Homo sapiens: one gene and its partners. The protein of the gene in region 1 interacts with the protein of each later gene in a biochemical or structural test. Each region holds a gene or a part of one and is shown in the gene's direction. Other genes may lie near its edges.

The links.
Region 2: the proteins of ISLR2 (region 1) and IGFBPL1 interact in a biophysical measurement, tested with the Homo sapiens proteins (one large-scale study listed by IntAct).
Region 3: the proteins of ISLR2 (region 1) and LTF interact in a biophysical measurement, tested with the Homo sapiens proteins (one large-scale study listed by IntAct).

The regions. Positions count from the first base shown.
Region 1 is NC_000015.10:74,133,579-74,137,326, forward strand, and holds the end of ISLR2 (immunoglobulin superfamily containing leucine-rich repeat protein 2 precursor), read left to right. Parts: coding exon 1-1,414; 3' UTR 1,415-3,224; downstream 3,225-3,748. UniProt on the Homo sapiens protein: Required for axon extension during neural development.
Region 2 is NC_000009.12:38,407,324-38,410,971, reverse strand, and holds part of IGFBPL1 (insulin-like growth factor-binding protein-like 1 precursor), read left to right. Parts: intron 1-1,754; 3' UTR 1,755-3,648. UniProt on the Homo sapiens protein: IGF-binding proteins prolong the half-life of IGFs and have been shown to either inhibit or stimulate the growth promoting effects of the IGFs in cell culture. They alter the interaction of IGFs with their cell surface receptors.
Region 3 is NC_000003.12:46,454,831-46,458,478, reverse strand, and holds part of LTF (lactotransferrin isoform 1 preproprotein), read left to right. Parts: intron 1-2,080; coding exon 2,081-2,189; intron 2,190-2,500; coding exon 2,501-2,683; intron 2,684-3,036; coding exon 3,037-3,184; intron 3,185-3,648. UniProt on the Homo sapiens protein: Transferrins are iron binding transport proteins which can bind two Fe(3+) ions in association with the binding of an anion, usually bicarbonate. Lactoferricin binds to the bacterial surface and is crucial for the bactericidal functions.

The DNA.
Region 1 (3,748 bases):
GATCCCCGGTGGCACCGTAGTCTTAGAGCCACCGGTTCTGAGCGGGGAGGACGACGGGGTTGGGGCGGAGGAAGGAGAGGGAGAAGGAGATGGGGATTTGCTGACGCAGACCCAAGCCCAAACGCCGACTCCAGCACCCGCTTGGCCGGCGCCCCCAGCCACACCGCGCTTCCTGGCCCTCGCAAATGGCTCCCTGTTGGTGCCCCTCCTGAGTGCCAAGGAGGCGGGCGTCTACACTTGCCGTGCACACAATGAGCTGGGCGCCAACTCTACGTCAATACGCGTGGCGGTGGCAGCAACCGGGCCCCCAAAACACGCGCCTGGCGCCGGGGGAGAACCCGACGGACAGGCCCCGACCTCTGAGCGCAAGTCCACAGCCAAGGGCCGGGGCAACAGCGTCCTGCCTTCCAAACCCGAGGGCAAAATCAAAGGCCAAGGCCTGGCCAAGGTCAGCATTCTCGGGGAGACCGAGACGGAGCCGGAGGAGGACACAAGTGAGGGAGAGGAGGCCGAAGACCAGATCCTCGCGGACCCGGCGGAGGAGCAGCGCTGTGGCAACGGGGACCCCTCTCGGTACGTTTCTAACCACGCGTTCAACCAGAGCGCAGAGCTCAAGCCGCACGTCTTCGAGCTGGGCGTCATCGCGCTGGATGTGGCGGAGCGCGAGGCGCGGGTGCAGCTGACTCCGCTGGCTGCGCGCTGGGGCCCTGGGCCCGGCGGGGCTGGCGGAGCCCCGCGACCCGGGCGGCGACCCCTGCGCCTACTCTATCTGTGTCCAGCGGGGGGCGGCGCGGCAGTGCAGTGGTCCCGCGTAGAGGAAGGCGTCAACGCCTACTGGTTCCGCGGCCTGCGGCCGGGTACCAACTACTCCGTGTGCCTGGCGCTGGCGGGCGAAGCCTGCCACGTGCAAGTGGTGTTTTCCACCAAGAAGGAGCTCCCATCGCTGCTGGTCATAGTGGCAGTGAGCGTATTCCTCCTGGTGCTGGCCACAGTGCCCCTTCTGGGCGCCGCCTGCTGCCATCTGCTGGCTAAACACCCGGGCAAGCCCTACCGTCTGATCCTGCGGCCTCAGGCCCCTGACCCTATGGAGAAGCGCATCGCCGCAGACTTCGACCCGCGTGCTTCGTACCTCGAGTCCGAGAAAAGCTACCCGGCAGGCGGCGAGGCGGGCGGCGAGGAGCCAGAGGACGTGCAGGGGGAGGGCCTTGATGAAGACGCGGAGCAGGGAGACCCAAGTGGGGACCTGCAGAGAGAGGAGAGCCTGGCGGCCTGCTCACTGGTGGAGTCCCAGTCCAAGGCCAACCAAGAGGAGTTCGAGGCGGGCTCTGAGTACAGCGATCGGCTGCCCCTGGGCGCCGAGGCGGTCAACATCGCCCAGGAGATTAATGGCAACTACAGGCAGACGGCAGGCTGAACCTCCGCCCGTCCGGCCCGCCCATTCCCGACCTCCACCTAGGGTGCCTGGGAGCAGCAGTCTAGGGCTGGCAGGACTTATGTCCCCCGTCCCCAACCTTCACCTACTCCTCCCCCTTACTACTCCCCAACCTTGACTACCAGGGACTTCTATTAGGGAGTGGGCCGATTTCACCAGTCCCTGCTACCCACGGCTGCCATTCTCCCTGCGGGCTGAATCCCCTTCCCCGCCAAGCACAGTGTTTATCTTACCCCATGCAAGACTCCACCCGCAGACGGTGGGCGATATCTATGTCCCTCCATTCCCGTCGCGATTATCTGCGAAATCCACCCCGCAGCCCGCCCCACCGTGGGCTCTGGAGCCAGAGGAAACGAGCGAAGACTTTGGAAACCTCGCGGTAACGCGGTGGTTTCGGGGGCCAGCCAAGGCCAGTGGAGTGCTGTGGGGTCCCACCTCGACCCCTCCTCCTCCCTTTCTTTCTTTCCTTTTTTTTTATTTTTTAATTTTATTTATTTATTTATTTATTTTTTGACGGAGTCTTGGTCTGTCGCCAGGCTGGAGTGCAGTGGCGCGATCTCGGCTCACTGCATCTTCCGCCTCCCGGGTTCAAGCGATTCTCCTGCCTCAGCCTGCCTAGTAGCTGGGACTACAGGCGCGCGCCACCACGACCAGCTAATTTCTTCTATTTTTAGTAGAGACGGGGTTTCACCATGTTGGCCAGGATGGTCTGGATCTCTTGACCTCAGGTGATCCATCTGCCTCGGCCTCTCAAAGTGCTGGGATTACAGGCGTGAGGCACCGCGCCCGGCCCCTCCTCCCTTTCAATCCCTACTCCCAGAAGCCGGGATTCGTGGCAACCCCTAGTTTTTAGTTCCAAAGCCTCCTGCCGGCAGGGAACCAAATCCTTCTGTCCTCCCACCCCCACCCCACTTCTGGCCAGTTGGAGTCCAGCCCGGTGCCTGGGGCGCCTTTCAGCTCCGCGCTCAGATTTTCCTGTTTTCGTTGTTTTCAAAGACAGCGACATTTCGGGTCTGGTGCTAACACCCCCTTCCCAGCCTCTGGGAAAATCGAGTGTGTGTGTCGGGGGGTAGGGAGGGAATGCGTTTTCTGTCGTCTCTCTCCTAACTTAAAGCGCCGCAGGACCGCGCGCCCCTTGGCGGCTGAGCCTGTGGACTTGGTCGCGGGCCAATTTCGTTGTCCGTGTGTTGGGCTTTCCGGAGGTCTGTGCGCCCAACAGCGCCGCTCCCGCGGCTCCACCCGACCCAGACCCTAGCTGGAAAGCGCCGGAGGCGGAGGAAGCTGACTGTGGCCTCCCGGGCCGCGGCTCTCTGGAGGGCTCGCGCCCTAGTTCGCACAAAGCCTGCTCGTGACTGTGCGACTGTGCGACGGGATCCGGATGGAGCCGAGCCCCTCCGTCCTCGCGTCTCGGTCCTCGCGTCGCCCCGCCCCACCCGCCCCTGCTTCGGCGGGAATCGTGTTTGCCCGGCGTGTAGTCCCTGACAAGCGTGCCCTGTAGGAGAAAAGTCTGTGTCCTGTGAAGTGTGACCGTGTAGTGTAGGGGGGCGGGCGGGGGGGCGGATGGGCGGGGAGGGAGGGAAGGGGAGGGGCGCGGCGCGGCGACTCGGGGCGGGGTTCTTTTTTCCATTTTGAAAGAAAGCGTCGGGGTTGGGGTGGGGGGAGTTTCAGTCCTCGGGATCAGCCCTCTCCGCGAAGCGCAGCACAAGCGCGGGCCTGGGACGGAGTAGCCCCCCGGAGCCCGTGCCCTTTTCTAAACGCGTCTGTATGCAGTCAATAAAACAATCGATTTGAACTGGGCTCGGTGACTTTTTGTCAGGGGACAGAGGGAGGAGGCCTGGGCGATGAAGGAGGAAACCGCGGAAGGAAGGAGCCCCCCCAGAGCCTCCCGTTGGAATCTTTTGAGTGATTTCCTGTTTGCGTGACCATCCTGTGATTTTTTTGCCAGGTGTTTGCACCCAGCCCTGCTCTTAGTGTCTCCAACTCCAGGGTGGGGTGACAAAAAACGAGGGCAGGCTGCAAGTGAGTAGGGGGAGGTTGCAGGAAAGGAAGGCGGGTGTCTGCAGACCCTGAACACAGGGAGTCTGAGTGTGCGTGCAAGTATATTTGCACTCAAGGGTGTGCGGCACCCTCTTTCACTTGAGACTGTCTGTGTAGTGGGGTGTGGCTGTATATGGTGTCACACTGCCCAGTTTCTGTGTCTCCACATCAGCCTTTGAGTTCCCTGAGAAGCCGGTGGGAAGAGGATGGGATTCATAGGGACAAGACCGCTGTGGCTTGCACAAGAGAAGTCACAAATAACACAAAGTACAGAGCGGG
Region 2 (3,648 bases), on another chromosome or scaffold:
ACACCTGAGCTTCCTTCCTGGGGCTCAGGCCTTGCCTTCCTGTCCTCAGCACTGTGTGCTGCTTTGCAACACATCTCCTTGTGGGTAGGGGCAGAGAGAATCTCTGCATCCCCTCTGGTCAAGGCCTCCTAGTCTGTAGTCACACAGGTGACAGCTGGGGTTGCATCTGTTCCTTGCCTACAGGTGAACTGGGAATTCGGGAAAGGGATCACTTTATAAGCCAGCTTTTGCTCATAAAAATCCCAAAATCTTGCTGGTTCACAGCCACAGACGTTGATCACTTGCTCATGTTCCATGTTATAGCTGTGAGCTGGCTGTGGCCCTGCCCCATGTGTCCCCTCATTCAGGACCCAGCTGGAGGAACAGCTCCAGTGTGGAACATGTCCGTTCTGTGGCCAGGCTGCACACACCATTGCATTTAAAGTTTCTGCTCGGATGTGATGTGTGCCCCGCCCATTTACAGACCAATCATTTTTTTTTTTTTTTTTTGAGACAGAGTCTCACTCTGTCACCCAGGCTGGAGTGCAGTGGTGCGATCTCGGCTCACTGCAAGCTCTGCCTCCTGGGTTCACGCCACTCTCCTGCCTCAGCCTCCCGAGTAGCTGGGACTACAGGCACCCGCCACCACACCTGGCTAATTTTTTTGTATTTTTAGTAGAGACGGGGTTTCACCGTGTTAGCCAGGATGGTCTTGATCTCCCGACTTCATGATCCGCCCGCCTTGGCATCCCAAAGTACTGGGATTACAGGCGTGAGCCACCGTGCCTGGCCTGCACGATCCTCTTACAGGAATGGGGGAGCAGTGGTGAACAGGCACCATTACCAAGGCTGATCAACAGGTGCTTAATAGAACAGGAAAAATTAGAAACAAGTCTGATAGGGTTTCTCAAAAGCAGGGGGATTTTGCCATGGTTTTAGTTATATTATTCTTTCAGCCACTACTGTTGCACACCTTCTGTGTGCAAGGCCTTACTTCTGGTCTGTAGGGGATCACAGAAAAACAAAAAGTGGACATAATTATAATACAAGGAGTGCGATGTAAGGGAATGGGAGGAGATATTAAGGCATGAAAAGCAGCTTAGAACTGGGGAAAATGAAGGAAGAATCATCGAGGAGGTGGCATGAGGATTGAAGGATGGGTGTACGTGAGTAGTTAGAGGCCCTAGAAATGGGGAGAAAAATATGAAAATGTAAAACTGTGAAATAGGAATTCAACAAAGAGTTAGGAGATTGGGTCTTAAAATTGTCTTCCTGATGATATGTGACTTGTTTTATATAGATATGTTTCCAGTTTTAAATATATATATCTATAATTTTCAAATACACGTATATTTTGAGGCAGAAATGATTCTGGGTTGTGAATACATCAAAAGGATACCATGAAAAATTGTGGAATTTTAAGAGCATCACTGCTGCCTAGGTCTTGAGTTCCTTCTGTGACACACAGTATTGCCAGCTCTGGCTTACATACCTCCAGGGATACAGAGCTCACTACCACTGAGAGCCATCTGTGGATTTTCCAATGGTTGAAAAGATCTTATTAAGCTGGAGTCTGCTGCTTTGAAACGTCCACCTTTTGGTCTTAAAAGTACTTCTTGGGACTCCACAGGGCCCTTCACTCTCCACTGGCACCATTTCCTGCTGGGGAGAGATTCGAAGTGAAGGATCATTTCCCCCACCTTCCATGTAACACATAGTTGATTGTAACGGAGCAGGCTTACGTTCTCTAATTCTTTCTCTCCTTTTCTTCCTAGGGTCTTAGAAACATTGATCATGGGATGATGGAAAAGTCAAATAACGGATCTTTGTGCTTCATGAAGAGTTGGAAAACCTGTGTGTGTAGATGACCCCTTTTGTGTGTTTTTAAAAATTAGATGCAAACTAGATCTGTATGCAGATGTAGTTTTTAGCAGGGCAAACAGTGAGAAACGGATTTGCATGTGGCTTTTTTATACTTTTGAAATGAATTGTTCCATGAGAAGTCTTTTTGTAATTATTCTCTTCCAGGGAGATCACAGAACGGCATGTTTGCAATTTCGAAAGGGCTCGTGTCAGCTGTGACTCTTTACCTCATTTGTCTATGACCTATTAGTGGTGCTCTGTGACTTAGTGTGTGTTGTAGAAGGAGGGATGAGGGTCCCAGCTGTCCTCTGCCTGACTGTAACTTGCTGTGTGACCTGAACAGATCCCTTCCCCTCTCTGGGCCCTGGTCCCTTCATCTGTGAGTATGGCATTTTAACTGGATGTTATCAATGTCCCTTTTAGCCCTGCCATCCTAGATTAAGATGGCCTTTTGGGAAAATAACAGGAAGTGTGGTCTTAGTGTTCTTTCTAAAATGGTATTCCCTCAGAAACAAATTCCATTGCTTTACCCCAACGTGTGGACAGCTGGCTGTAGCTCTTCTATTCCTAACTTTTTCCCTTTGAAGGAGATTTAGTTTTAGGTGGGATGCTTTACCAGACTCAGGAGCGCCTTGGCTGGGTCTTTGGAGACCAGAGCATCCATTTGTTAGCCTAGCATTCTCTTTTTTAAAATTTTATTTTGAGACAGGGTCTCGCTCTATCACCCAGGCTGGAGTGCAGTGGCGTGATCATGGCTCACTGCAACCTCCACTTTCTGGGCTCGAGTGATCGTTCCACCTCAGCCTCCTGAGTAGCTGGGACCACAGGCATGCCCCACCACACCCAGCTATTTTTTTTTTTTTTTTTTTTTTTTTTGTAGAGACAGGGTCTCCCTATGTTGCCGCCCAGGCTGGTCTCAAATTCCTATGCTCAAATGATCCTCCTGCCTTGGCCTCCCAAAGTGCTGGGATTATAGGCATCAGCCACTGTGCTTGGCCTAGCCTAGCATTCTCTAAACAGGTGGTTAGAAGCGGTGGATACCAGGCTTCTGACGATCAAATTGTAAAAAAAGGGGTCAGGTGTTATCTCCAGACTGTGGAATTAGATTGTAGTAGAATATATTTTACCTACAAACATTTTGACCTCACCCAAGAGTAAGGCTCTCTTTTTTTTCTTTTTTAATGAAAAAAGAAAGGAGAATATTTGCTATCTTATCTTAAAAAAATAGATCCTTAGGTGATTACAATTTTAAAATAAGAATTGAGAGCCCTTACTATGCACAGTCCTTTAAGTTCATAAAGCTTGATCCCAACTCTGGGAGATGGGGCAGGACAGGTGTTAATGTCCCTGCCTTTAGCAGATGAAGAAACCAGGCTCTGAGAGGAGAAGCTACTTGCCCAAGGCCTGAAGGCCTCTGAAAGAGGAGCAGAGCTCAGGGCACCTGGCCCTCCTTGGTCCCCTCTCTACTCCACGGTGCTGCTACTCAGGGTCATCTCAAAACTATGTAAAGGCAGATGTTGCCAATCCACAGGCTTCAGGGACTCTTATCAAGACTCATCCCAACTTTTAAGGCACACTTTCACACCGCTCACATTGTGCATTACATTTTGGAGTCCTTGTTGGAAGTGAACTTTCCGCCTGTAAGCCTGCCATTCCATGTCTAATATATTGGGATGGCATCACCTTCTGTACTATGCAGCAGAAGGAGACTGGCCTGGGATTCTGGAAACATGAGATCCATTTGCATATTAATCCCCGGCTCGCTGTGTGACCCTGAGCAAGTCTCCTTCACTTTCTGTGCCTCAG
Region 3 (3,648 bases), on another chromosome or scaffold:
ACAAAATCTGCCTTTTAAAATAAGATCCTGTCCAAGGCCATACCACGCTGAACGCGTCTGATCTCGTCTGATCTCGGAAAATAAGATCCCTGTTTGAAATCAGTACTACATACCATTCATTCAAATAAAGTTGAGATAGATTAAATGGTTAAAAATAAAACTTGTATTATTGAAAAACTAGGGGGCAGGTTAACTAGCAGAACTGTAGAGGAAATAGAAATCTCTTAAATGATGATCTAAATCACGAAACAAACAGATATTCTAAAATACAGAAAATGTAATTCATAGCCCATAGAAAATATTTAAATAAAAAAATTAGAAAGGACTGGAATGAATGAATATGCGCCAGCTCTGACACATGATTACTATTTACACTCTATAAAAGAATAACTCAAGGCCGGGCGTGGTGGCTCACATCTGTAATCCCAGCACTTTGGGAGGTCAAGGCAGGTGGATCACGAGGTCAGGAGATCAAGACCATCCTGGCTAAGATGGTGAAACCCCATCTCTACTAAACATACAAAAAAAAAAAAATTAGCCAGGCATGGTGGCACACGCCTGTAGTCCCAGCTACTCAGGAGGCTGAGGCAAGAGAATCGCTTTAACCCGGGAGGTGGAGGTTGCAGTGAGCTGAGATGGTACCACTGCACTCCAGCCTGGGTGACTCCGCTCGAAAAAATAAATAAATAAAAGAATAACCCAAATTGGAAAAAATGTAGAATCATAGAAGAAAAATGATATGAACAGAGTTACCAGTAAGAGGGAATTCATAATTAATAAAAAATACTTGTGAGATGTTCCCCTTACTAATCAGACCTGAGCGATTTGTTAGTACTCACATTTTCTATAGTAATAACAGCTAATAGAATGATAGCCTGCCCTGCTGGTGATTCAAGAGTGAAGCTGGTCCTCACGGTCAGCGCCATTCTGAATTGGTATTATAAGTCTTCTGGAAGCAGAATGGCAACGGCAGCCCGGGTCACAGGGGGAAACGTGCTCCTCATCTGGGGGATTCCACCCTCAGCTGCCTACCCAAGGACACAAGTGGTCACAAGGAAAAACACTGAGGACAAAGATATTCATGAAAATACAGTCTTCACAGGAAACAGTTAGAAATAAACTTAAATGCTAAACATTGGGGGAAATTATTCAATACACGATAGAACACCCACATTATGAGAAAACATTATGCTGTCTACAAAATCAGTAAAGGCTCTGCAGAAGTTAGAAAATGTATCCAGTTTTAGAGGAATAAGCAGTCCACAAAATATGATGTATCCCAGGGGTCCCCACCACCTGGCCACGGACTGGTACCGGTTGATGGCCTGTTAGGAACTAGACCTCAGACCAGGAGGTGAGCAGAGGGCCAGTGAGCATGACTGCCTGAGCTCCACCTCCTGTCAGATCAGCGGCGGCATTAGATTCTCATAGGAGTGTGAACCCTAGTGTGAACTGTGCATGCGAGGGATCTAGGTTGCACTCCCTATGAGAATCCAATGCCTGATGATCAGAGGTGGAACGGTTTCATCCCAAAACCATTCCCCATCTGTCTGTGGAAAAATTACATTCCCTGAAACTGGTCCTTGGTGGCAAAAAAGTTGGGGACCACTAAACTATCCCACATTGCAAACCAAAGAAATATGTAATCATGTGGGAAGCAATGTGCTGAAGCGGAGGAACATGGTTTCTTATGAAAATTTTAGGATAGCTTAATAACTATATTTTCTATCCAATAAAACAGAACTTAAAAGAAATGAATATAGAGCAAAAATAGAAAGTATCTAGAACAAACGACTTCAAATATAGATGACTGTGAGGGGTGTGATCGGGAGAGTGACACAGGCAGGCAGAGGAGAAAGAGGGCAGGCGCCAGTCTCAGGACTTAGAGGGCTGGTGCTCACTGTCCCAAAACAGGGGTCCTTGGCTCTCACCATCTCTCATAGGAAGTGAGGGGACAGGATGGAAAGCGGACCCCTTTGACGACCCTTCCAGCCATGGAGACTTTTTGAGGTCCTGAAGTCCCACTTGCTGGGTTTGGGTGAGTTTTCTGCTGAAGCCAGTCTGGCCTCTTTACTTTCAGGAAAACAGGGCCGATGCTGTGACCCTTGATGGTGGTTTCATATACGAGGCAGGCCTGGCCCCCTACAAACTGCGACCTGTAGCGGCGGAAGTCTACGGGACCGAAAGACGTGAGTTCTGCCTGGGGACCCAGAGGCCACGGTGGCCTCAGCCTGTGCCCTGAGCTGTGTGGATTAAGACTGGGGGAACATGTGGAGGTGGAGTCTGGGTCACATCACACATGTAGGGAATGGAGTCGCTGGGCTCTGGGCCAGATGAAGGCCGTTCCTCCTGACGCTGACCCACGAGAGGAGGACACACGTGAGCTGTGAGGAAACTGCAGCACAGCATTCCCCCTTCCCACCGGAGACTTTTCAGGATGGGTTGTTTTTGTCCCTCTTGTCCAGGCTAAGAACTTTCAATTCTGTCTGCCCCTTTGCAGAGCCACGAACTCACTATTATGCCGTGGCTGTGGTGAAGAAGGGCGGCAGCTTTCAGCTGAACGAACTGCAAGGTCTGAAGTCCTGCCACACAGGCCTTCGCAGGACCGCTGGATGGAATGTCCCTATAGGGACACTTCGTCCATTCTTGAATTGGACGGGTCCACCTGAGCCCATTGAGGCAGGTAAGATGGCTGGGGGATAGTGAGTGGCCTCAGGCAGGGGGCTCTATTCCAGTTGTAAGCACAGGCCACACAGATCATGCAGGTGAAAGTGTGGGATGAATCAAGGTGGGGGTGAGGCTGGCCAGCTTGTAACATCCTGCTGGCAGGATCCGTTACCCTAGCAGCCCTTGGGAGGCACAGCTGAGTCTGCTCTCGGCAGAGGTGCATGTCTCGAGCTCCCAGCCCCATGACAGAGTCTCTCCTGCAGGGGTGGAGGAAGGGGCCTTGCCCACGGAGACCTCAGGATGGGAGGTGTAACCTGCTGTGACCAGGGCTGGCTCACACTCTGTGGTCCACTTCTCTGTGTTTAACAGCTGTGGCCAGGTTCTTCTCAGCCAGCTGTGTTCCCGGTGCAGATAAAGGACAGTTCCCCAACCTGTGTCGCCTGTGTGCGGGGACAGGGGAAAACAAATGTGCCTTCTCCTCCCAGGAACCGTACTTCAGCTACTCTGGTGCCTTCAAGTGAGTGACCCTGTCCCCTTCTCGTCAGTGGCCAAGTGTCCCTTGGCCTCAGGCCGGGAGGCCTTTTCTCTGGCCCCACATAGAGCCCAGCCTGCTCTTGGGGACGAGAGGAGGTCTGTTCTCCTACTGCTGTGTGTCCAAAGAGAGTGCAGGCCTGCCCAGTGTGTGTTCCCCTCCAGCCTTCCGGGCCCAACTGTGCCCCCAACTTCTCACCAGCCCCACGGGCAGTCACTGTGGCTGTGGGCCCTCCTGTTACCTCAGAGAGCCCTGAATCCAACTTGGCTGCCCTGTTGTCCTGGGTTCCTCATACTAATTTCTGCCGCCTGCCTAACCACAGCAGGACTGAAGGCATCTTGTCATGAGATGTCCAGTCCTGGCTCCTGGTTGGGCAGGACCGCTGCAGTGTCCAGGCTGATGTCCTTCTGCCCACCTGGGCCTCTCCCCGTGGCTGAAGGACAGTGAGC